4 separate regions of the Homo sapiens genome follow, and all the other regions are linked to region 1. Evidence: fine-mapped expression QTL. A gene starts in region 1. Each other region holds a variant in brackets. All regions are shown on one strand. Distances are between the middles of the regions. Region 1 holds the start of SPEF2 (sperm flagellar 2). Region 2 overlaps SPEF2 (sperm flagellar 2). Region 3 overlaps SPEF2 (sperm flagellar 2). Region 4 overlaps SPEF2 (sperm flagellar 2).

Region 1 (5,655 bases):
ATTCAATAAAGTAGCAGGATACAAAATGAACATACAAAAATCAGTCGCATTTCTGTACACTAATACTGAAATAGCTGAAAAATAAATCAAGGCCAGGTGCAGTGGCTCAAACCTGTAGTCCCAAGTCTTTAGGAGGCCAAGGCAGAGGATTGCTTGAGCCCAGGAGTTCAAGACTAGCCTGTGCAACATAGAGAAAACTCATCTCTACCAATGAATGAATAAACAAATAAATAAATAAAGCAATTTCATTTCCAATTGGTACAATAAAAATATACACCTAGGAATACATTTAACCAAGACAGTGAAAGACCCTACAAGAAAAATTATAAAACACTGATGACAGAAATTGAAGAGGACACAAACAAATAGAAAGACACCCCATGTTCATGAATTGGAAGAATGAATATCATTAAAATGATCATATTGCCTAAGACAATCTATAGATTCGATTCAATTCCTATAAAAATACCAAGATCATTTTCACAGAAATAGAAAAAACAATCCTAAAATTCATATGGAACCAATAAAGAGTCCATATAGCCAAAGCAATCCTAAGCATAAAGAACAAGGCTGGAAACAGCACAGTATCTGACTTTAAAGTATATTACAAGGCTATAGTAATTAATACAGCATAAGCTGGAAACAGCACAATATCTGACTTCAAATTATATTACAAGGTTATAGTAATCAAAACTTCTTGGTAGTGGTATAAAAATAGACTCATAGACCAATGTAACAGAACAGAGAACCCAGAAATAAATCCACATATTTATAGCCAACTGATTTTCAACAGAGGCACCAAGAACTATGTTGAAAGAACCCTCTCTTCAATAAATGGTGCTGGATAAGTTGGCTATCCATATGCAGAAGAGTAGAGCTGAACAGTATTTCTCACCACATACACAAATATCAACTCAAGATGGATTAAAGACTTAAATGTTAGACCTAAACCTATAAAACTACTAGAAGAAAACATAGGGAAAACACTTCAGGACATTGGCCTAGGCAAAAATGTTATGAATAAGACCTCAAAAGCACAGACAACTAAAACAAAAATAGACAACTGGGGGCTATATTAAACTAAAAAGCTTCTGTACAATACATGAAACAATCAACGGAGTGAAGAGACAACCCATTGAATGGAAGAAAATATTTGCAAACTATTAATCTGACAAGGGACTCATATCCACAACATACAAGAAACTCAAACAACTCAACACTAAAAAAACAAACAATCCCACTAAAAAGTGTGCAAAGGACACGGATAGACATTTCTCAAAAGAAGAGGTACAAATGGCCAACAGGTATATGAAAAAATTCATCATCTCTAATTATCAAATGCATATCAAAACCACAATAAAATACCATCTTACCCCAGTTAGAATGGTTATTATTAAAAAGACAAAAAACAACAGATGCTGGAGAAGATGTGGAGAAAAGGGAACTCATACTGTTGGTGGGGATGTAAATTAGTATGACCACTATGGAAGGCAGTATGGAGGTTTCTCAAAAAACTAAAAACAGAACTGCCATAAAATCCAGCAGTTCCACTACAGTGTATCTATCCAAAGGAAAAGAAGTCAGTATATCAAAGGGATACCTGCACTCACATGTTTATCACAGAACTATTCAAAATAGCCAAGATATGGAATAAATCTAAGTGTCCATCAGCGAACAAATGGAAAAAGAAAGAATGGTATATATACATAACGGAATACCATTTGTCCATGGAAAAGAATGAAAACAGGTCATTTGCAGCAACATGGATGAACTGGAGGCCATTATGTTCAATGAAATAGGCCAGGCAACAGAAAGACAAATACTGCATGTTTTACTCATATGTGGTAGCTAAAAAAGTTGATCCCCTGGAGATAGAGAACAAAATTATGAGTACCAGAGACTGGAAAGGATGTGAGGGTGGGAAGGGGAAATGAAGAGAGGTTGGTGAATGGGTACAAACTTATAGTTAGATGGAAGAAATAGGGTCTAATGTTAGCTAGCAACTGGGGTGACTATAGTTAGCAATGATACATTGTATATTTCAAAATAGCTAGAAGAGAAGATTTGAAATGTTACCAACGTATATAAATGATAAATACTCAAGGTGATGGATACCCCAAATACCCTTCTTCTTTTTCTTCCTCTTCTTTTTTCTTCTTCTTCCTCTTCTTTGATCTCTCCTTGTTCTCCTCCTTCTCCTTGTTCTCCTTCTTCTCCTTCTCTTTCTTCTTTTCCTCCTGTTCTTCCTCTTCTCCTCCTCCTCTTCCTCTCCCTCTCCTTCTCCTTCTTGTTATTCTTTCTTCTTTCTTCTTCTTTTTTGAGACAGAGTCTCATTTTGTTGCCCAGGCTGGAGTGCAGTGGCTCGATCTCGGTTCACTGTAAACTCCGCCTCCTGGGTTGATCCTTCCACGTCAGCATCCTGAGCTGGTGGGACCACAGGCGCACGCCACCACGGCCGCCTAATTTCTTACAGAAAAAAAAACGGTTTCTGCTACCTTGCCCAGGCTGGTCTTGAACTCCCAGGCTCAGTCGAGCGCCACCCCCTCCACAAAGTGGTAGGATTATTTGCGTGAGCCACGGAGCCCTGCGGAGACTCTGGTTTTACTTTCTGCTCACCTAAGAAGCTCCTGCTGTGTCCCTAAGTGTTCCCGCCTCGCCTCTCCCCACACCCACTGCTCCCTAACTTCTCTCACAGGCCCCCAACGGCTTCCTCCTGCGCTGGCGCACGCTCAGGTCTTACCCGCCAGCAGGTGGCGAAACACGATTTTCTGTCCTCTGCGGCTGAGCCCTAGCGTCCCCTCTTCTCTAAGGCCTTTCGCCTAGTTCCAGCCTGGATACGCTTCCATAGCAAAGGGTTGCCCTTGGCTACAGGAGGACGCGGGCTGGCAGGCTTGGTTCCTGGCGAGTTTCTAAGCCCCCGCCTGCGGTCTGAGGCACCGGCTGAACCATGTCGGAGATCCTGTGCCAGTGGCTCAACAAGGAGTTGAAGGTGTCCCGGACCGTGAGTGAGTGACCACGGCCAGGGGCGAGCGTCTGAGGGGCTAGCGGGGCGCAGAGCCTGCAGCGCAGCGCAGCGCACTCAGGGAAGGTGGCGGGCAGGGCGCGAGCTGCACAGGTGGGGCACCTGCGTAGCCGGCAGCATCCCACAGTGAGCAACTCGGCTCGGCGGTGCCCCAGGTCCGTCCCGCCACCTCCCTACAGCTCACCCCAGCCAGGGCAAGGCCTTGTCACGTCCCCACTCTGCCGCTCTCGAGTTACCCTTGTCACGGTGGGCCCAACCCGCAGGCATTCTGACTTTGTGATGTGGTTCTAGGCAATCAGAGGGTTTAGGAAGGTCTCCTTTGCTTCTGTGGAGAGGGAACTTTGCTGGACTTTGTAGTCTGACCCCAACGATGCCTCCTTCACATCACCAGAAGCAGAAGCATGGTGTGGTGGCTAGTCGATGAAATATGAAGCCACTGGACAAGTTACAATACCTTCTCTGAATGTGTTTCCTTCTCTATAAAATGGACCTAATAATGCTTTCCATACTTAACTGACCAGCAGGGGAGGGTGGGTGAAAAATAAGTTAATGTAGAATATGTTAACATTTACAAATTTTAGTAAATTTTAAGCCCCAAATCACAAACTAGCTATTTCTGGTCACTATTGGCTCTTGCCCAAAGCTGACCTTATTCACCAACCTAATTTTATCCTAACCATGCAGTTGCCACCCAAAGTTTCCAAGTCTGACAACCACAGAGACAATTTTACATGCTGGCAGCTTCCTTGACTGCCCTGTAATTCTTCAGGAGTTCATTTTTCAGTTGGTTTTGTTTGTCTTTTTTTCTTTTTTTGCTTAAGGGAAGAGGTTTTCAGGGCAAGTCATTTCAGTCCATTTTCCCAGAAGAACTTGCTTAACACCAGCTTGCTACCAGAGAGGCAGTGGTGCCAGTTCAACCTTAGCTTATCTACAGAAGTTGCTAGATCGGTAGTGTTTCTGTGGGTGCAAAGTAGTTATTAATACTCTCAGCATGAGGATCTTTAGCACGGAGCATCTCCTGTTGCATTTCTTGAGGCATAAACCTCAGACTCTTTCTTTGTCAAATAACCATCTACACACTCCCTGTGAACTGCAATAAATTCTTTCCTGGTATTCTACGATTATCCCATTGTGTCTCCAACTGTTTATTTGCTAAAATATGATGGACTGAGGACAATATTTAGCATTTATTGTTTCTTATTCCTGTCTCACCATAGGAGCCAAAATAAAATATCATGCCCTTAAGTTGTACTCTTCTAAAAGAAAAGCAGTTACATATTGCTTAGTTTAATTTAGTTCATTTATTTTATTAGTAAAAACCACACCCGGGCCGGGTGCGGTGGCTCACGCCTGTAATGCCAGCCCTTTGGGAGGCCGAGGTGGGCAGATCATGAGGTCAGGAGTTCGAGACCAGCCTGGCCAACATAGTGAAATCCTGTCTCTACTAAAAATACATTAGCCGGACGTCGTGGCGGGTGCCTGTAGTCCCAGCTACTTGGGAGGCTGAGGCAGGAGAATCGCTTGAACCCAGGAGGCAGAGATTGCAGTGAGCCGAGATCGCGCCACTGCACTCCAGTCTGGGCAACACAGAAAGACTCTGTCTCAAAAAACAAACAAAAAACAAAACAAACAAACAAACAAAAAACACCCTTTGCTGAAGTCCCCAGGACTCTATTGCAACATTTTGAAATACTTTTAGGAGAAATAAATGAAATTAATAAAGATACATAAAATAAAAACAGTAGATGCCATTATAATTTTAATTAGTTTTGGGAATTTAGGTTTTGAGAGGTGGAGGATAAACATAAAAGGGCTGAAGACTAAGTAAGAATTTTAACAACATTTAGGCTATGGATAGAAAATTCCTGGCGTCTGTGCTCCTGAAGTGTAGATCTGGAAGCTAGCAGAGATGCCCCGTTCTAATGGAGTATTCTGCTTTCCATTCACTAGCAAAACGTATTAATTTTTTAATCTCAACTACTATAAGAGAGATAGAGCGAGAGAGTCCTTGAGGAGGTAACCAGATTCCACATTGTAAAAGGTCTTTGGGAACACACTTAACTGTGTTTGTAAGCCAACAAGCTAGGATTTGTGCACTCAAGGAAGCACATTTCCTGCTGCTGCTGCCCCATCATTAGATAAACTGTTGTGTGGTGCACAATGGAAGGCTTTGGATGGTTTGTAGAATCTATCATGGAAGGACTGTGAGTGGGTGCAACCTCTGGGGAAAGTAATCAGGCAATTTCTGGGTAAGGGAAGTGTAAAAAGCAAGAACTTGGAGGTTAGACTGCTTGGAAATCTTTTGGACAAGTTATTTACCTAAATTTCATCATACTTAAAAACAGCAATAATAATGATACCTCATCTGGTTGTATCAAGATTAAATGGGATATTAAATGTAAAGCATTTAAAATAGCACTTTGGACATAAATGCTAAATCCTACTTCTCAGCATCTATCAAATAAAAATAAAAGCACCAATATATAAGGATATTTGAACAAAGACGTTTATTGCTACATGAATTACAGGGGCAAAAATAAAAATTGGAAACAATCTGAGTATCCTTCAAAAGTGTAATGCTTGGATACATGGTGCTTTATTCATACTATGAATTGTTATGCAGTTATTACAAA
Region 2 (5,655 bases), 54 kb after region 1:
TAATTTCAGGTTCTAGTCCAACTGTTTATGATCATGTCAGGACATTTCACACATCTTGTCTTGAAACCATTTTCCCATCACTCTGTCCTTGTTGTCTCCTAAGCATTCCTCAGGACTCAGCTTAGCAGTCATTTCTTTAAAGAGACCTTCCTGGAACCAACAAGTTAAGTTGAGTCATACTGTTGTGCTTTCCCATTGTATAATTCTTATTCAAAACTTTCATTTATGTACGCAATTATTTTTTCCCCTTCTTTCCCAGAGTCTGCTATTTAAGTCCAGGTATTCCACTTGCTATTATATTTCTAATAGCTAGTAAAATGTCCGGAACTTAGTGGGTTTGAAGAATGATTGTTACTTTATGCCACTGGCTCTTTTCACTTTTTTATTGACTGTTTCATAGCAGAACAATATATCTAAAAATATTGAGTACAGTCAGAACACTTAGGTTCCTTAATTCTCAGCTCTGATATCAGCTTACTATGCAACCTTAGGAAATTATTTAAATGCTCTAGTATCAGTGTCCTCCTGTGCAAAACGAACAAACTGAGTGCTTTTCAAGGCCCCTTTAAGAGAAAAGTAGGTTTACATTTTGTAAATTATTTGTAACAGAAAAATCTCATATATATTAGTCTTATTGTCATTGCACATATGGTAACCTTTAAGATCATTTTTCAGTAATTATTTCTGTCTGATGAAAGTGAGCTAATTACATAAATATAATAAAAATACCAATGTTTAAAATCTATATTTGACTAACCATTGATTCATCTCTACCTTTTTTTTGTGCGATAGTCTGATTCCGTATAAGTTGATGCATGATTGGAAGGAACTATTTTTTAATGCAAAACCCATATATGAACAAGCCTCTGTTAAGACACTACCTGCTAACCCCTCAAGAGAACAACTTACAGAACTGGAGAAAAGGGACTTGCTAGATACCAATGATTATGAAGAATATAAGGTACCTACTGATATGAAATAATTAGAATGCTACATAATAAATCCTTTTTCTTTAACATTAATTTTGTGATATTCCTTATTTCATTTCTACTAATAAAAATAGACATGTTTTGTTTGCATTTTCCCTTGTTTTAATTTGTATGTTTGTACTACTTTTTAGATGCTTAAACTATACATAAGCTATTATCTATTGTTCCTAGTAATCTTAGGGGAGTGGTCTGAAAAAACATCAAGCATAGTAATTGTCTGGGTAGACAGATTTCAGAATTTTTAAAATGCTTTAATTTATTTATTAGCATTTTTCTTTGTATGGGCTGTGTACTTTTGCTTCAAAAACCATTGTTAAAAAGTATTTCTTTTGTAATCAATCTAAATAATAGACTTTTTTTACAGGCAAAATGAAAGAGGAGGAAGTCTGGGTTTTATGAATAGCATAGATTCAAACAATCTTTTATTCAAAGATTGAAATAAAAAGTATCGGGTGCCAACTGTGATTTTTAGAAGAACTGTTGTAAAGCCTTTGAGATTAGACAGACTAGAGCTACATTACTGAAATTGCCAACTACTAACTGTGTGACCTTAGGTGACCAGTTCATTAAGGGCTAATAGATTTCCATTTTTCAATTAATGGAAAGGGAATGCTACTATACCTACTTCATTTAAAATAACATGAGTTAAACACTTAGCTGAGTGCACTTCATGTTGGATGCATATAATACATATCCATTTCTTTCCTCACCATCCTACTCTCCCCATCCCACTCCATCTCACCCTTAGAAGTAAAGGTGTAACAATCATAGCTTTTGGATAGAAATTTTGAGTGGATCAACAGCAATGGAATGAGGAGTGAGGCTTTTTATTAGAAAAATTACAAAATGAGTCCCGGAAGGTCAGTAAGTGCAACATGAAAAAAATCTATGAAAAGATTATTTGACCTAATTATTCACTGATAGTACATACTCAACAAAGGTTTGTGGGACAAAGGGTGAATAAAATGAATGAATTACAATGAACAAAGAAAAGTGCAAAATAACACTAACAAGTAAATATTACAAGAAGATAACCTTGTGGTTAAAAGATAAGGAAAAATATGAGATTATGAGAAATTAAATGTATACTATATTTTAATTAAATGAATCTGTATTTGTAGCACTAAGAGAATTATTATTAAGGATTGACTAGAACCTTAAAAGATATATGTGGATGTTTGTTTTGTACGGTTGTAAAATATACTAGACCTATTACATCCACCTAAAGTATAATGCCATGTAAGAAAATGCTTTGACAGTATCAACCTGTGTTAAGGTATTTCTTTCCATTGTAAATTAAAAGTCATTTTATTTGACAGACTTTACTGGTTCATCGAATGTTTATTTCTAAATTACTTGCTAAACAGCTCAATCTCTATTCTTGTTGCTCTTACAAATCAGGAGACCTAGTAGGCTGCAGCTTAGCAAAGATTTTTGTCTCTTTAGCTATTTTCCTTGTATGAGAAATGGTTACCACAGGAACATGCTTGTCTTACCCACATCCTGAAGCAGATGATGCATTTCTTTTGCAGAAAATTGTAAACTTTTGTTAGGAGTTTGTGAGCGTCTAGCAATGTACTTTATTTTGTGTATTGACTTTGCTGTTTTTCTAGAAATGAAAATTACCTTAGGATTTATAATATGTTTTCACAAGCTCCCTTCGACACCATAATGGAAAATATGCCATATACAGGTTTTAGGATATACTGTAAACTATTATACTATCATTCTTTATTTTTAGATCTTTGGTCTCTTCAAGAACTTGTCCTAAATGTTCCTACAT[A/C]CAAGTAAAAAATAAATGTTTCAACTTGTAAAATATATTATCTGGCTTAAATAGTCTATCACAAGAGGCAGCGGAACAATGCATCCTGGCTTATCTAAAAGAAACAGTTGTCCACGTTTGTCATTATTAAATTTGTTCAGGAGTTTTAATGCAAATATATTACTCAGAAATTAATACATTTGCTTGAACATAATGTTCATTATAATGTTATTGAACATAATGTTCATTATAATGTTATTGAACATTATATATAATTCATTATAATGTTATTGAACATAATGTTCATTATAATGTTATTGAACATTATATATAATGAACATTATTATGTTCAAGCAAATGTATTAATTTCTAAGTAATACATTTGCATTAAAACTCCTGAACAAATTTAATAATGACAAATGTGGACAACTGTTTCTTTTAGATAAGCCAGGATGCATTGTTCCGCTGCCTGTTGTGATAGACTATTTAAGCCAGATAATATATTTTACAAGTTGAAACATTTATTTTTTGCTTGTATGTGGGAACATTTAGGACAATTTCTTGAAGAGACCAAAGATCTAAAAATAAAGAATGATAGTATAATAGTATAATACATTTGCTTGAACAAATAGTGTAATACATTTGCTTGAACATAATAATGTTCATTATATATAATGTTCAATAACATTATAATGAACATTATGTTCAAGCAAATGTATTATTCAGAAATTAATCTTCAAAAAGTTTATATTCTTAGCATACTTAATTGATGTCCATACCCTATACCTTTAAAGAACTGACAGTTCCCAGTTTTGAGTTTGTGCTTTTAGAAGCCCGTGTTCTGTTCAAATAAGCTATTATGCTTAAAATTTTTAAATATTGTACCTAGAAATTGCAATTAAAACAGATATTTGCTTATGTACATGTCATATGTAGCTGCCAAAAATTTGACTCATGTCTTAACTTTATTTCCTAAATCATCACACTCTATTTATGTGAGAATGACTGAATGTGAGGGAGCTCTACCCCAGTGGCTAGAAATAACATTTCTCTCTCCCAGGAAAGAGGCAAGAACAGCATCATGGAGCAGTCAGACCTCTCTGGGGTTCCTAGGCAACTACCACAGCATAACAACATTGAGTTATTTAGTAGAAAGTGAGGAAGGGCCCTTAAAGCCCAATGGACCATGGGTAGCAGTCTAAGCCAGGAGGCCTGGTTCCTGTAGTGCAGCTGGCAGCACAGCCCCACACAGCAGCTAGTGGTTCTCAATCATGCAGTGGACTCCTGCCAGTGAACCTCAAACTCCCCCTAATGCAAATCCTTTCTGTGGGTCTTACTAGCAAATGAGTTGCAATTCATAGCGTTTCACTTTTATATAAGCTGCTTACTAGCAATTACTAGTTGAATGAGTTTAAGAGTTACTAAAATTTAGTGTTCATAAACTAAAATTAGCTCATGGCTATGGTTTCCTGAAGATTTGGATTTTTCTAAGAAGTCCCTGCCACAAAGCACTCAACCATTTTCAGAGCTCTACTGTGCATGCCCATAACCAAGTTATACTTGGAATTTCTATAATTTGGGGGAAGGATATTTCATTTCCAGCACATCATCCATGTTGTCTTAAGTTGTTCATGATTTTTAATTGCTGCTATTTTTTGCCTTTAATGGCAAATTAGTGTTTAAGTTCATGATCAGGTGAGTTTGTTGTGGTTATTGGATTAACCCTACAGTGTGTGTTATAATGTACATTTTTATTAACATTATTTTTGGCTTATGATTTTCCGTCAACCAGACTTTAAGATGTGGTTGTATATGTTATGGTTTAACATGTGTACGCCTGTCACTACAGCACATGTATGGACACCTATCCCCCAGTTTTTTTACAATGACCTTTATTACCACCAGGTCTTTTTCCACCAAAGAATAGAAATATGGGACTAAATGAGCCATGGAGTTCTCTGTTTTCCTGTCTCATCTGAATTGTGTGGCCCAAAGACATCCCTGGATAATTGACACAAGCACAGTGATAGATTTTAGTAGATGAATGTTAAGGGCATGTGAATCGATCACTTTTTTACATTTAAAACATATACATTGCATTGATCAGCTCAGGCTGCTATAATAATACACTATAGACTGGGTGGCTTAAACAACAGCAATTTATTTTTCATAGTTCTGGAGACTGAGAAGCCCAAGGTTAAGGTGTTAGCCAGTTTGACTCCCCAGTGAGATCTTTCTTCCTGGCTCACAGAAGACTGCCTTCCTGCTGTGTTCTCACAGGGCAGAGAGAAACAGAGTGAGCTCTTCTCTTTTCGTCTTCTTTTTTTTTTTTTTTTTTTTGGTGTTTCCAAATTCTTTTTATTATTATTATTATTATATTTTAAGTTTTAGGGTGCATGTGCACAATGTGCATGTTAGTTACATATGTATACATGTGCCATGTTGGTGTGCTGTACCCATTAACTCGTCATTTAACATTAGGTATATCTCCTAATGCTCTCCCTCCCCCCTCCCCCGACCCCAAAACAGGCCCTCGTGTGTGATGTTCCCCTTCCTTTGTCCATGTGTTCTCATTGTTCAATTCCCACCTATGAGTGAGAACATGTGGTGTTTGGTTTTTTATCCTTGCGATAGTTTGCTGAGAATGATGGTTTACGAAAACTAATCTCATCATGGGAGCCCCTCCCTCATGACCTCATCTAAACCTGATTACATTCCAAAGGCCTAGCCTCCAAGTACCATCACATTGGAGGTTAGGGCTTCAACATATGAATCTGGGGGAGACACAAACATTCAGCCCATAATATATGCATTTATTCAGGATACTTACAAAATGTCACAATATGGAAACTTACTAATTAAGTATAGGAACTTTTAATTTCACATGAAGTTGCTTGTTTTATG
Region 3 (5,655 bases), 26 kb after region 1:
CGCATAATACACTAAATATATCTTGCTAAATATTTATGTTAAAAGAGTTACTAGTACACAGAGGAAACAGGACAGTAAGTTACACCACATGATCAGAACATGAATTCAAGATATTGCATCACTATTTTTGTTGACATTGGCCATCTCATGGTGCTGGCTCCTCATTTATATTTAGAAATCACTCTTATATTTCCTGAGCGCCACATCTTTTTGGAAGATGGGTGCTTTTAGGTTAGACTGTAAGAGGCTCAAAAACATGCTATATGATGTTATACACGCTTTGTCTGTATGTATAAATGTATGTTTCCTTTTCTGTAAAAAAGTTCCATAGCTGTCAGATTTTCAAAGGTATCTGTGATTCAAAAACAAAAGATTTAGAGCCACTACCTGAATGCAATCTCTTGAGAAATAGTATACTAGGAACAGTATATCAAGTTTAGGTGTTGTGACTTCTGTATTTACTTCTGAAGAAATCCTATTGTCAATTTAGAGCAGAAAAATTTTAGTGTAGCCATTTAAAAGAAATGAATGCATAGAGTTCAGGTAGACATGGTCAATAAAAAAATCTCAATGTAGTTACATTAGAGTGGTTTTAGAGAGGAATGATACAGCTAAAAGGACATGAAATAATTCAAAATATTGGATAATGATAATATGTCTGATATTTGTTGTTTGTCTTTAATTTAATGCTAATGTCTAATTATGTAAAATATTTTACTGTCCAGGGTTTCAAGTGCCAAACTTAATAATTTTTCTCGCTTGGAGCCAACACTTAACCTTCTGGGTGTGCAGTTTGATCAGAATGTGGCCCATGGCATCATCACAGAAAAGCCTGGGGTGGCAACAAAGCTGTTATATCAATTGTACATTGCTCTTCAGAAAAAGAAGAAAAGTGGACTGACTGGAGTGGAGATGCAAACCATGCAACGTCTGACAAATTTAAGACTTCAAAACATGAAAAGTGATACTTTTCAAGAGGTAGGTACATAAAAAAGCATAATAAGCATGTCACAGTGTAAAATTTGATAAAGAGAAATGACAATGATATTGAATTCTCAAAGAAGCCTCATTAGGCATATATATCCTTTATGTATGTTACTGGCCATACTTGGGTTTTATTTTATATTAATAATTTGAATTTATTTAGCCATTTTTGATGTCTCTCTCTATCCTATCCATATTGCCAATAGCTTATCAAACTCTTTTCCTAGTTTCCAGTACTTTTTGTTGTTGTTGTTTTAGAGAGACAGGGCCTTGCTCTTTTGCCCATGCTGGTCTCAAACTCCTGAGCTCAAGCAGTCCTCTGCCTCAGCATCCCAAGTAGCTGGGACTACAGGCCTAATACTTTTTGTGCCTGCTCCTCTCTTCCTGTTTCTACCCCATCATATCTGCTCAGATCTTCTTATCAACTACTGCAGCAACCTGCTAAAATGTCTCTCAATCTTCTGGATAAGTCAATCAACTGCTAAATGAATCTTCCCTAAATTTTACTTTTATTGAGTTCTTCTGCTCAGAAACCTATTTTTACTTCTTTCTAGTCCTCAGCATGGTATTTCTTTCTTCTATGTTAATTGACAGTCTGTCCTTAAATATGACTGTCTATTCCTGCTCTTCCTTCCCTCAAACCCAAACTCACCCTTCTCATCTCTCCTCTTCCCCAAACTGTTCTTCATCTACCGTGCAGCCCAGTACACACGGGTAGTCCCAGTTCTTCCTTTGGAACTCTAGAGCATAAGTAATTCTCACTCTCTTGGTTTTACCGTCCTGATACTGATATTGTTGGCTAACTAGTCATTATTTATTTGTCATATGACCTTACCAGATTTTTAGTACATCAGATTTGATGAATATGTCTAGTACAATGCTTCAAATGTTGTAAGTACTCATTAAATGTGTTATTGACTAATTGATATGACTTTTTAGTTGACAATTCTCTCCAGTTTTTATGCAATTCCTTATGGTAAATGAAGTGCATTAACTTTTACAGGCCTCTGGAATAATCATGAGTGCTGCACTGATGCAAAATAGTAAATATCAATGGATAGAATTATATTTTTAAATTTAAATTTTGAAGCAGCAATGACGTAATAGATATGAGGGCTATCTCCATGTTTATATTTGTCCATTCTTCATGGATATCATTGTAAGTCTGGTAGCAGAATGGACTCAGCGCTCCTTGAGAGCTAGAAATTAGATTAGTCTTAATATGAATAATTTATTATTGCATTCGGCCTCCTTCACTTGCAAGCTGGTTAACATTGAGCCAGCCTCTAAACAACTCTCAGCTTCAATTTCCCCAACTGTAAAAACAGGGATGCTTATTTCTACCTGCCTCAGTGTTCAGAATTGGATGTTTTTGTAGCTTCAAGAAAAAGAGTGGACTAACTGGAGTGGAGTTTATATATAATAAAATGTAAAGCAGTCAACAGTGGCAAGTGCTATAAGAGCTGTGTAGATGAAGACAAACAAGTGCCTATTAGCTCATTTAATGTTGGTCATGGGTGAACTTCAAGCGTCAATAATTCATTCACTGAACAAATATTTATTGGGCTCCTACTTTTTGTCAAGCACTTGCACAACAAATACACAGGAAAAGCCCCAACCCTCTTAGAGCTTACATATTGGGGAGAGAAAAATGTTTCATTAGAGTGATATGGATTGCAGTGAGTTGAGAAGGACTTTGGAGATGAGGAAGAGGGTAACATAGATTATTCTTTCAAGAAATGTGGAGGTAAAGAAGAGAACAGTAGGAGAGAAAAGCTCAAGTGAAGTATGAGATTGCTTGTTTTATGGACCTAGAGACTGGGGCCACTTATCAGTTGAGAA[A/G]AAGAGTCAGTGGCAGGAGAGATGAAAATGGTACAAGGACAAGATGGAAAGAGGCCCTCTGGGGACGGAAAGAGGAATATGCAATCAATGGTTCATGTGGAAGAGGTGATATCATAGGAAAGAAGTAGAGATGCCATCTTCTTTGATACTGGATGAGAAGAGGTGCAGGTAATATTAATAATGGTTGAAATTTATTAAACAGCATGCCTAGTGATGTGCCAAGCCCTGTTTCAGGTGCTTTATGAATATTATCTCACTGGATCTTCACAACAGCCATAAAATATAGTTACTTTCATTATTCCCATTTTACAGATGATGAAACTAAGGCACGGATGGATTAGGTAACTCGCCCAATTTTAAGCAGCTAGTAAGTGGTAAAGCTGAAACACAAACCTAGGAAGTTTTAATGTTTCTTCACTTTTTACTAAGGAGTGGCTAAGCAATGGGAAGAATCTAGCTTCTTATATTATCTCTTATATGTTAAAGTTGGTTTAATGAAATTATTTTTGCAAAAAAAATAAATAAAATTTATTTCCAAGAATATAAATACCATTTATTGAAAATTTAACTCAGTGTAAAAAGTTTAACTATAAAAGTATATATGAGGCTATTTTGTAAGAAGAACCACAAAGGATAATGTTTTTATAATTGTGCTTACATCAATTAAGAATATGAGTAATTGGAATGGGGTTTGAATTTAGCTTAACTATCAACAATAGTAATTTAAAGAATTTCATTTTGAAGACAAATTTTATTTGTGCTTATAATGAAAATGTACTCTTTATTCTCTAATAAAATCTTTTGAAATGCTTTTTTCATTTAGAGACTTAGACACATGATACCACGTCAAACTGATTTCAATCTGATGCGGATTACATACAGGTTTCAAGAAAAATATAAACACGTGAAAGAAGATCTTGCCCATTTGCATTTTGAGAAACTTGAAAGATTTCAAAAACTCAAGGAAGAGCAAAGATGTTTTGATATTGAAAAGGTTCTATAGAACTATTTTTTCAGAAATTCATTAGTGCATAGTATACAGTTTGTGATTTATGCGTATAGTACACATTGCATAAGTAGTAGTGGAGCACAAGTTGCACTTCCCTGATGCATGACTTTGTCCTGCCCTACTCTCACCCTTTCTCTCTCTCCCCTGCTCCTTTTCTCCATCCTGACTCTTGCTGACTCTCACCTCTACTTGTGGCTGAGAACAAGAACTGCCATCTTCTGGAGTGGCAAGACAACTGCATTACCTTCACTGGTAGAAATCAATGTTTCAGCTGCTTTAGTGATGGAGGGTTGCTATTAGCTACCCCATTGGTCAAAGGCACATGACCATTGTCACCACTGAGGGAGATAGATCAGACAATGTCCTCTCGCTTTCTCCTCTTTTGCAACCTTCGGTCCTGCCCCATTTCTCTGTTCTTGGAGATGTGAGGTAATTCTTTGCTTGCTTACCTTTTCAATCACCTTGAACAACTCTCAACTTCTTTCTGGCCCTTGCTTCTTGCTTTGACTAACTCTCTGCTCCTTCTCAGATTTCTTTAAAACTCTTTAATGATCTTCTGTGCCTTTGTGGGTGAGAGAATAATGGTACATGAAATCATTAAAGATTTTTAAGAGTATTTCAGGTGACTGGGTATATGGAATGTGTAAACTACAGGCAAAAGAATTATGTAGTTCTTCCCATTGCACTGTAAAATCACTTTTTAAATTCATGGATTTATTTGCAATGATAAGAAATTATATTCTGAATGTAGTCAGCTCTTTGTAGGGAAGAATGGGAAGATGACAGACAAACTGGAAGATCACTTGGAAGCTGGTTAACATTGAGCCAGCCTCTAAATAACTCTCAGCTTCAATTTCCCCAACTGTAAAAACGGGGATGCTTACTTCTACCTGCCTCAGAGTTCAGAATTGAACGTTTTTGTAGCTTCAAGAAGAGTGGACTAACTGGAGTAGAGTTTATATATAATAAAATGTAAAGCAGTCATGTAATTATATGACTTGCCAGAGGGTAAATAAAGGATTATATTCCCCTTTGGTGTTACATGATAAAGAGAGAAAGCACTCTTAAAGTAGTGTTTAAGTTGAGACCAATTGCTGTGACTGTAATTTATGTGGAACCAGCCTGTCTATTAGTGCCAAGCCTAATGCAGACAGTCTCCAAGAATGTTGAGAAAAAGGAAATATGATACCATTAAATATTCTGAAATAAATTATGTTCAAAATGATCATAGGGAACAAATAAGGCAAAAGGAAGACTCTGTGTCTTCCTGGTCTTCTTAAGAAAAAAAGATAAACATATTGCAATTAAATAAATATTCATATTTTGGAAAATGAAGAAAATTGTCTATAATGTATGCCTTTTTAAGGGTAAATTGAAATTTTTTATCTTTGGACATGAGAGCTAATGATCATATTAGTTCTAATATAATGTATTAGTAGTAAAGTCATGATTAGTTTCACATATTACCTCTTAAATCATTTACTTTTAAAATACTTTATCTGATTTTTCAGTCACTTTTTCTTTTCAAATACATTCTCCTGCTTATAGTCTTCTTAAAATAACTACTGCCTACATACAGAAGAGATGATCCAATAATTGTATCACATAATTTATTGTTAATTCAATTTTGAGGTTGCCCCTGAACTCATTGTTTAAGTGTGACTGGGTTTTGGGGAAGTTTGTGATTTTTATTGGGTTTCGCAGGAGCCCTCCTAGAAACTATCTCCTAGATAGAATTTTCTCATTGAACCATCTTCAGAGATAGAATTTTTTTCTTCCCATCCTTGGTAAGGTCATGGCAGTAGGATTGGGAAAGAATT
Region 4 (5,655 bases), 91 kb after region 1:
CAGAATTATAGGCTTCTTGGACAACTGGCCTTTATTGGAGCAATGGTTTTCAGAGCCAGAAAATATTTTGATAAAAATCAATGCTGAAATAGATAAGGAATCTTTATGTGAAAAAGTAAAAGAAATTCTTACGACTGAAATAGCAAAAAAAAAGAATAAAGGTATTTACATTTGTTTATAGTTTTGAGTTTAGGCAACTAAAATGTGTGGTTTTTAATGAGTTTGGTAGGAAATGAAGATGTGATTGAAAAGTTCTTTCTTATCTTTGGATTTATACTATCGACAAATATATTCTGCCTCTGGCTTTAGCTTTCTGTTGTATATGTTTCCGAATAAAAGATTTTTTCTCTCTCTTATTTTAATCAAAAAGAGACCATCTCTCTGAAAGCATTGTTTTCACATAAAAAAAAAACAAGAAAAAAACCCAGCAGAGTTAAATTTAAATGTTAATTCACATTTTATTCTCTGGATATTTGTAATCTTTATTTGTTAATTAGATATTTTTAAGTAAAAAATAATGAACATTAGAGATATTGTAGATAAAGGTAAAGGTTTTACTTTGTTAGCTTTAGCATTATAAAGAAACCATGTGAATTCTTTTAGGATGGACACACTAGGCAATTTTTTCTCACATCCACCTATTTTGTTATAAGTTTATTTATTATTATTAAATTGATTATTAATTATATATTAACTTGCTTTCATGTTTTATCTTACCCACATAAAACTGCACAGATCGCCTTCCTATTTCATTCAACCAATGATAATTGCCCACTAACTTTTTATACTATTATTGAAGCTTTTTATTGAAAGAGATTTTAACTTCAGTCCAATATCATATTTCCATTGGGATTTTGCCTTGAGACAAGATTTGAAAAATAAATCTTTCTTTTTTGTTTATCAATTACCCCAAATTATATTGGCAACTACTGTTTCTTAGTATAATAAAAAATGGTCAAAGTTAATAGTGTCAAAAGGATTCTAAAGTTGCCTTGATAGCATACTGTCTCCTGTCGCTAAATTTGTGACCTAACTCCCATAATGTAACAGTTAACTAACATTAAAATTGCCCATAGACATAAACCACAATCACCATGGAAATCCAGGAGCTCATACTTAGAAAGACAAACTCCTACATCTAAATGCCTACTCCAAAAACTACCAGCATGAACCTTTCAAACAAAAAATAATCATATACTATTTTAAGAGGCTTAACATGTCATTTGACAGAATAGCAATCTTACAGAGTCTTGGTTGGGAAGCAAAAACAAACCAATTCTAACTCATGAAGGCTTGAAGCTACGGGTTAGAATCAGTTTGTTTTTGCCAACTATTAGACTCAACTTCAACATTTTCCTAAAGAGTTTGCATTCTAATATTCACTGACTACATTAATAGACTCAGTTATCACTTAAGATTTATATTTCAAACAGGTAATTAACAAATGTTTAATAATTAAAACAATAAACATTAACCTAGCCCAGTGCTCTGTATTAAACTTTCCGACTAAGTTAAAAAACTAAAAGAATGTGGTACTTCTATATTCTGACCACAATATACTGTTAAGTAGGGAAAAGCAGGTTACATATGAAATAGTCTCTTTTAAGGAAAGTGTACATAATTATGTATTAAATACATCTGCACAGAAGAGTCTGGCAGCATATATATACTTGATGATGGGGAAGGAGATAGGACTTAAAGAGACTTAACAGGCAATTCCCTTTTCTACTTGTCTTAATTCTTGGATGTTTAAAGCAATAATTATGAATAACTTTAAAAGTCAGAACTAAAACCCCTAATTTCCACTTCAAAAGAACATCTAATAGAATGAAGCCTCCTAGCTTGCTGAATTGAAAAGAGTAATCTAAGGGTGGAGTAAGCACATGTAAAGAGAAATAGTCATGCAAGAACATAGGCAATCGTCGCCAGTGGTACATTGAGTAGAGCTGTGGGCCTCTGCAGTGTGAAGGGATGGAAAGACTGGGCAGTCAGGGAGGGTGTGCCAGGAAAGGTGAAACTGCATCATGCAAGGCAAAGGGTCATCACAATGATGGGAGCCTAGAAAGACTCCAGTCAGGCATGCTCCATCCCTCCAGGCATCTGGGCTAACCATCTCCCCTGACTGGAACACTCTTTCACCAGAAATACACAAGGCTCACTCCCTGGCTTGCTTCATGTCTTTGCTCAGATGTCACCTTATGGTTGGGCATACTCACCCTGGCAGTCTATCTAAAACTTAAGAAGCTGCCCACAACACTTTGATCTCCCTTACTCTGTTCTATTTTTTTTCCATAGCACTTATCACCATCTTAACTCTTGTATAAATTAACTTATTCATCATATTTATGGTTTGTTTCCTACCACTAGAACG[T/G]AAGCTTCATAAGGCCATTGATTTTTCTGTTTTGTTTTACTGTTGTATCTCCAGCAATCAGAACTATTGTTTGCAATATTATTATAATTATTATCATTAGAAATAGTAGTAGTTTTACTTTATTCTTGTCATCCTTCCTTTTCTTCAAGGCATAATTCAGGTTCAATAAATGGTTGTTGCAGGAATGAATGAATTGCTAAGGCTTAATTGAAGATGTATGTACTGTGCAGTATTCTAAGTGCTTTGTATTCACTTTTTAAAGTTAGTGATACACATTTCTTTCCCCTTCCATTTCCTCCTCACCCCACCTCTTGTATTACATTGCCCTTTACCGTCTTTTTACACTTGTTCACTTTGCTTTCCCACTGGACGTTTTCAAACAATCTTTTATTTTTCTCCTCATCTTTATTAGCTACTTCTAGATTATCACTTTTACATTTGACACCACTTGCTAACCCCTTATACCTGCTCCGTACACACAAATACACATATATTCCTCATCACCCCCATGCCAACCACCACCATCACCACTCCTACCATCACCACTACCACACCACCACCATCACTACCACCATCCCCACCACAGACTTCACCACCTCTACCTCCACCACCATCACCTCTACCAGCACCTCCACCACCACTACCACCAGCACCATCACCACCTCTACCTCCATCACCATCACCACCACTACCCATCAACATTACCACCACTGCCATCAAAAGGCAAGGGCAACCATATTTCTGACAAGGGAGAGAAGACTTGAAATCTTAGCTTTAAGGACTAGATGATTTAAGGGAAAGCCCTAAAGCATGAATTAGCTTTAAATACGTAAGATTGTTTTATATTAATTTAGATTTCTCTTAGTTCAAGTGAAATAGTAGATTTCTAGAGTCTCTAATGAAGGTCAATTCTTATCATCCTTTTGAAGTTGAGAAGAAATTAGAAGAAAAGGAAGCTGAGAAAAAAGCAGCAGCTTCCCTGGCTGAGCTTCCACTTCCTACACCTCCTCCTGCTCCTCCTCCTGAACCAGAAAAAGAGAAGGAAATTCATCAAAGCCATGTGGCTTCAAAAACTCCTACTGCAAAAGGAAAACCTCAATCAGGTGATTGACAGAATGATTTATAATCCTGTTTTCAGTTTCTTATTTTTACTCAGTAAAGAATTATAAATTATAGTCTATCTACATTCAGACTTTGGGCAACTTCAATCATATGAAACAAGGCTTTACACTCAGATGGAAGTGGAAAAGCCCTCGGAGTAGCTAAAAGCGTAGTTGTTACAAAGCCCAACTTCTTTGCCATGTAGGAGGAGACATGGAGTCATCACACCTAGGTCTACTGATTAGAGTAAGACCACAGACGAGAAGAGGAAAAGGCACAGAGTAACAGGTAACTTCAGGCAGATCAAGAGGATACACGTCTGTGTGCTGAACTATAGAGTTACATTTATGTAATGAGTAAGAACATCTTAATAAAATAAGAATGAGTATAGCTGGTTTTCCACCAGAATAAGGGAACAAATTAACAGCAACCATTAGAACTAGAATTTATATGTAATTGTAAATCTTCAGGACTATGTGATTATAAAAGTATAGAAACAAGCTCCTGCCATCTCAGTAAACATATATTTATGGACACAGAGATAAAGAGCCTAGATAGAGAACACTTTTAGTTTAAGTTTGTTCTAGATCCTTAACCGCTATGGACCATAAGTCTAGCATTAAGTGGCAGACAATGAATATAATGACAAAAGTGAAGTGCTTAATTGTTGTAATGCATGATATTGGTAGAGTGTCAGTATCCATTTGTGTGTGTATATAAAACAAATGAGGCTCTGGTTTCTAGTTTCAGCTTTATAAATGGCTGACTGTGCAGTTACACCATGTCTACCTAAGTATCTTTGATACTGTGTCATGACCACATTTCTAAACTCTATAGTCTTTCTGCCTCACGGAGATTTGAGATAGGTCTTAATTTTTAAAATTAAACTTATTCATATTAAACAAAGACATATGAAGACTTTAGTAAGATATATTATGATATATTAAAGACCATTCTGCTCCAGGAAATTAGAAATTAACTACAGGCAAAATACACACATCCTAAAAAATGTTTTTATCATGTCAACAATAAAACACAAAGACATGAATTAAACATACACCCTTTTCCCGCTGTCTCATTAGGAAATTAAAAAACAATTCAGAGGTCTGGAGGAAAATGGAAATATTTAAAATGCTTTTTAGAACTGGGGAAGACAGGCCAAGCATGGTGGCTCATCCCTGTAATCCCAGCACTTTGGGAGGCTGAGGTGGGCAGATCACCAGAAATCAGGAGTTCGAGACCCCGCTGGCCAACAGGGCAAAACCCATCTCTACCAAAAATACAAAAATTAGCTGGGCGTGGTGGCAGGCACCTGTAATCCCAGCTGCTTGGGAGGCTGAGGCAGGAGAATTGCTTGAACCTGAGAGGCGGAGGTTGCAGTGAGCCGAGATTGCCCCACTGCACTCTAGCCTGGGGGATAGAGTGAAACTCTACCTCCAAAAAAAAGAAAAGAAAAATAACTGAGGAAGACAGTTTTCACAGTGGGTCAGGTGAGCCTAGAATTATCGAATATCGTCCTTTAACCTATAGCTATGACTCTAGGTTAAAGCTCCTCCTCAGCTTGCTCCAGTCAAGAGTATCTATGTATTTGAGCCATTTCCTGAAACCAGACTCTAGTGTTTCTGATCAGACCAGCTCAGTCTTTAAGTTTCTGAAGTTTGTTTGCTATTTTATAATTATATTCTTGAATACTGTGCATTGAAGAAATAATAAATCTATTGTTGCTTTAAAGAGTGGTTGTACTTGTCTTTTTTTCCCCACCAAGGTCAAGGCTAGTGCCTGATATTTAAGAATGTTTAGAAAGGTTAATCTCGAGAGTCTTAATTGCTGCCACCCAACCTTACTGTGATGGACATTGATAGGGCAGGAGAGCAGACAGCACTGCCCCTGCAGCTCAGGGAAGCTTGGTTAGGCAATTTGAGAGAGGAACATTTATCACAGGTTTTTAAAATGTTTTGTGTAAATAATTTACAAATTTTCCAAAATGGAACATTTTTAGAACTGAAAGCCTGAGGCTTCTGAACATGCCCTACTCAAACATCTAATTACAATCTTCAGCAGAAGTTGAGATGAAAAGAGGAATTATTCACTAAAAAACCAAATGAAATTTTAAAAAAGGGCTAGAGTAGGCATAGTACATTGAATCCTATTTTGTTATTTTGTTAAAAAATTTTGTTATTTTG

The links. PIP is the estimated chance that this variant, and not a neighbour inherited with it, causes the effect.
Region 2: its variant is fine-mapped to the expression of SPEF2 in whole blood (TOPMed, PIP above 0.99). The same link has a PIP of 0.9 or more in cerebellar hemisphere.
Region 3: its variant is fine-mapped to the expression of SPEF2 in monocytes (TOPMed, PIP 0.91).
Region 4: its variant is fine-mapped to the expression of SPEF2 in whole blood (INTERVAL, PIP above 0.99). The same link has a PIP of 0.9 or more in atrial appendage, esophagus muscle and fibroblasts.

Annotation. Positions count from the first base shown.
Region 1 is chr5:35,615,051-35,620,705 of GRCh38, forward strand. SPEF2 (sperm flagellar 2) reads left to right here and starts at 2,813. Exons shown (of 37, transcript NM_024867.4): 1 at 2,813-3,005. The coding sequence starts at 2,948. RefSeq lists an enhancer at 2,856-3,663.
Region 2 is chr5:35,669,267-35,674,921 of GRCh38, forward strand. It overlaps SPEF2 (sperm flagellar 2), which reads left to right. Exons shown (of 37, transcript NM_024867.4): 10 at 793-961. Among named protein-coding and RNA genes, the nearest start is that of SPEF2, 54 kb to the left of the region's middle. The variant A/C (reference allele first, on the strand shown) is at 2,773.
Region 3 is chr5:35,640,706-35,646,360 of GRCh38, forward strand. SPEF2 (sperm flagellar 2) reads left to right here. Exons shown (of 37, transcript NM_024867.4): 3 at 726-978; 4 at 3,650-3,820. Among named protein-coding and RNA genes, the nearest start is that of SPEF2, 26 kb to the left of the region's middle. The variant A/G (reference allele first, on the strand shown) is at 2,827.
Region 4 is chr5:35,705,648-35,711,302 of GRCh38, forward strand. SPEF2 (sperm flagellar 2) reads left to right here. Exons shown (of 37, transcript NM_024867.4): 18 at 4-161; 19 at 3,301-3,474. Among named protein-coding and RNA genes, the nearest start is that of SPEF2, 91 kb to the left of the region's middle. The variant T/G (reference allele first, on the strand shown) is at 2,372.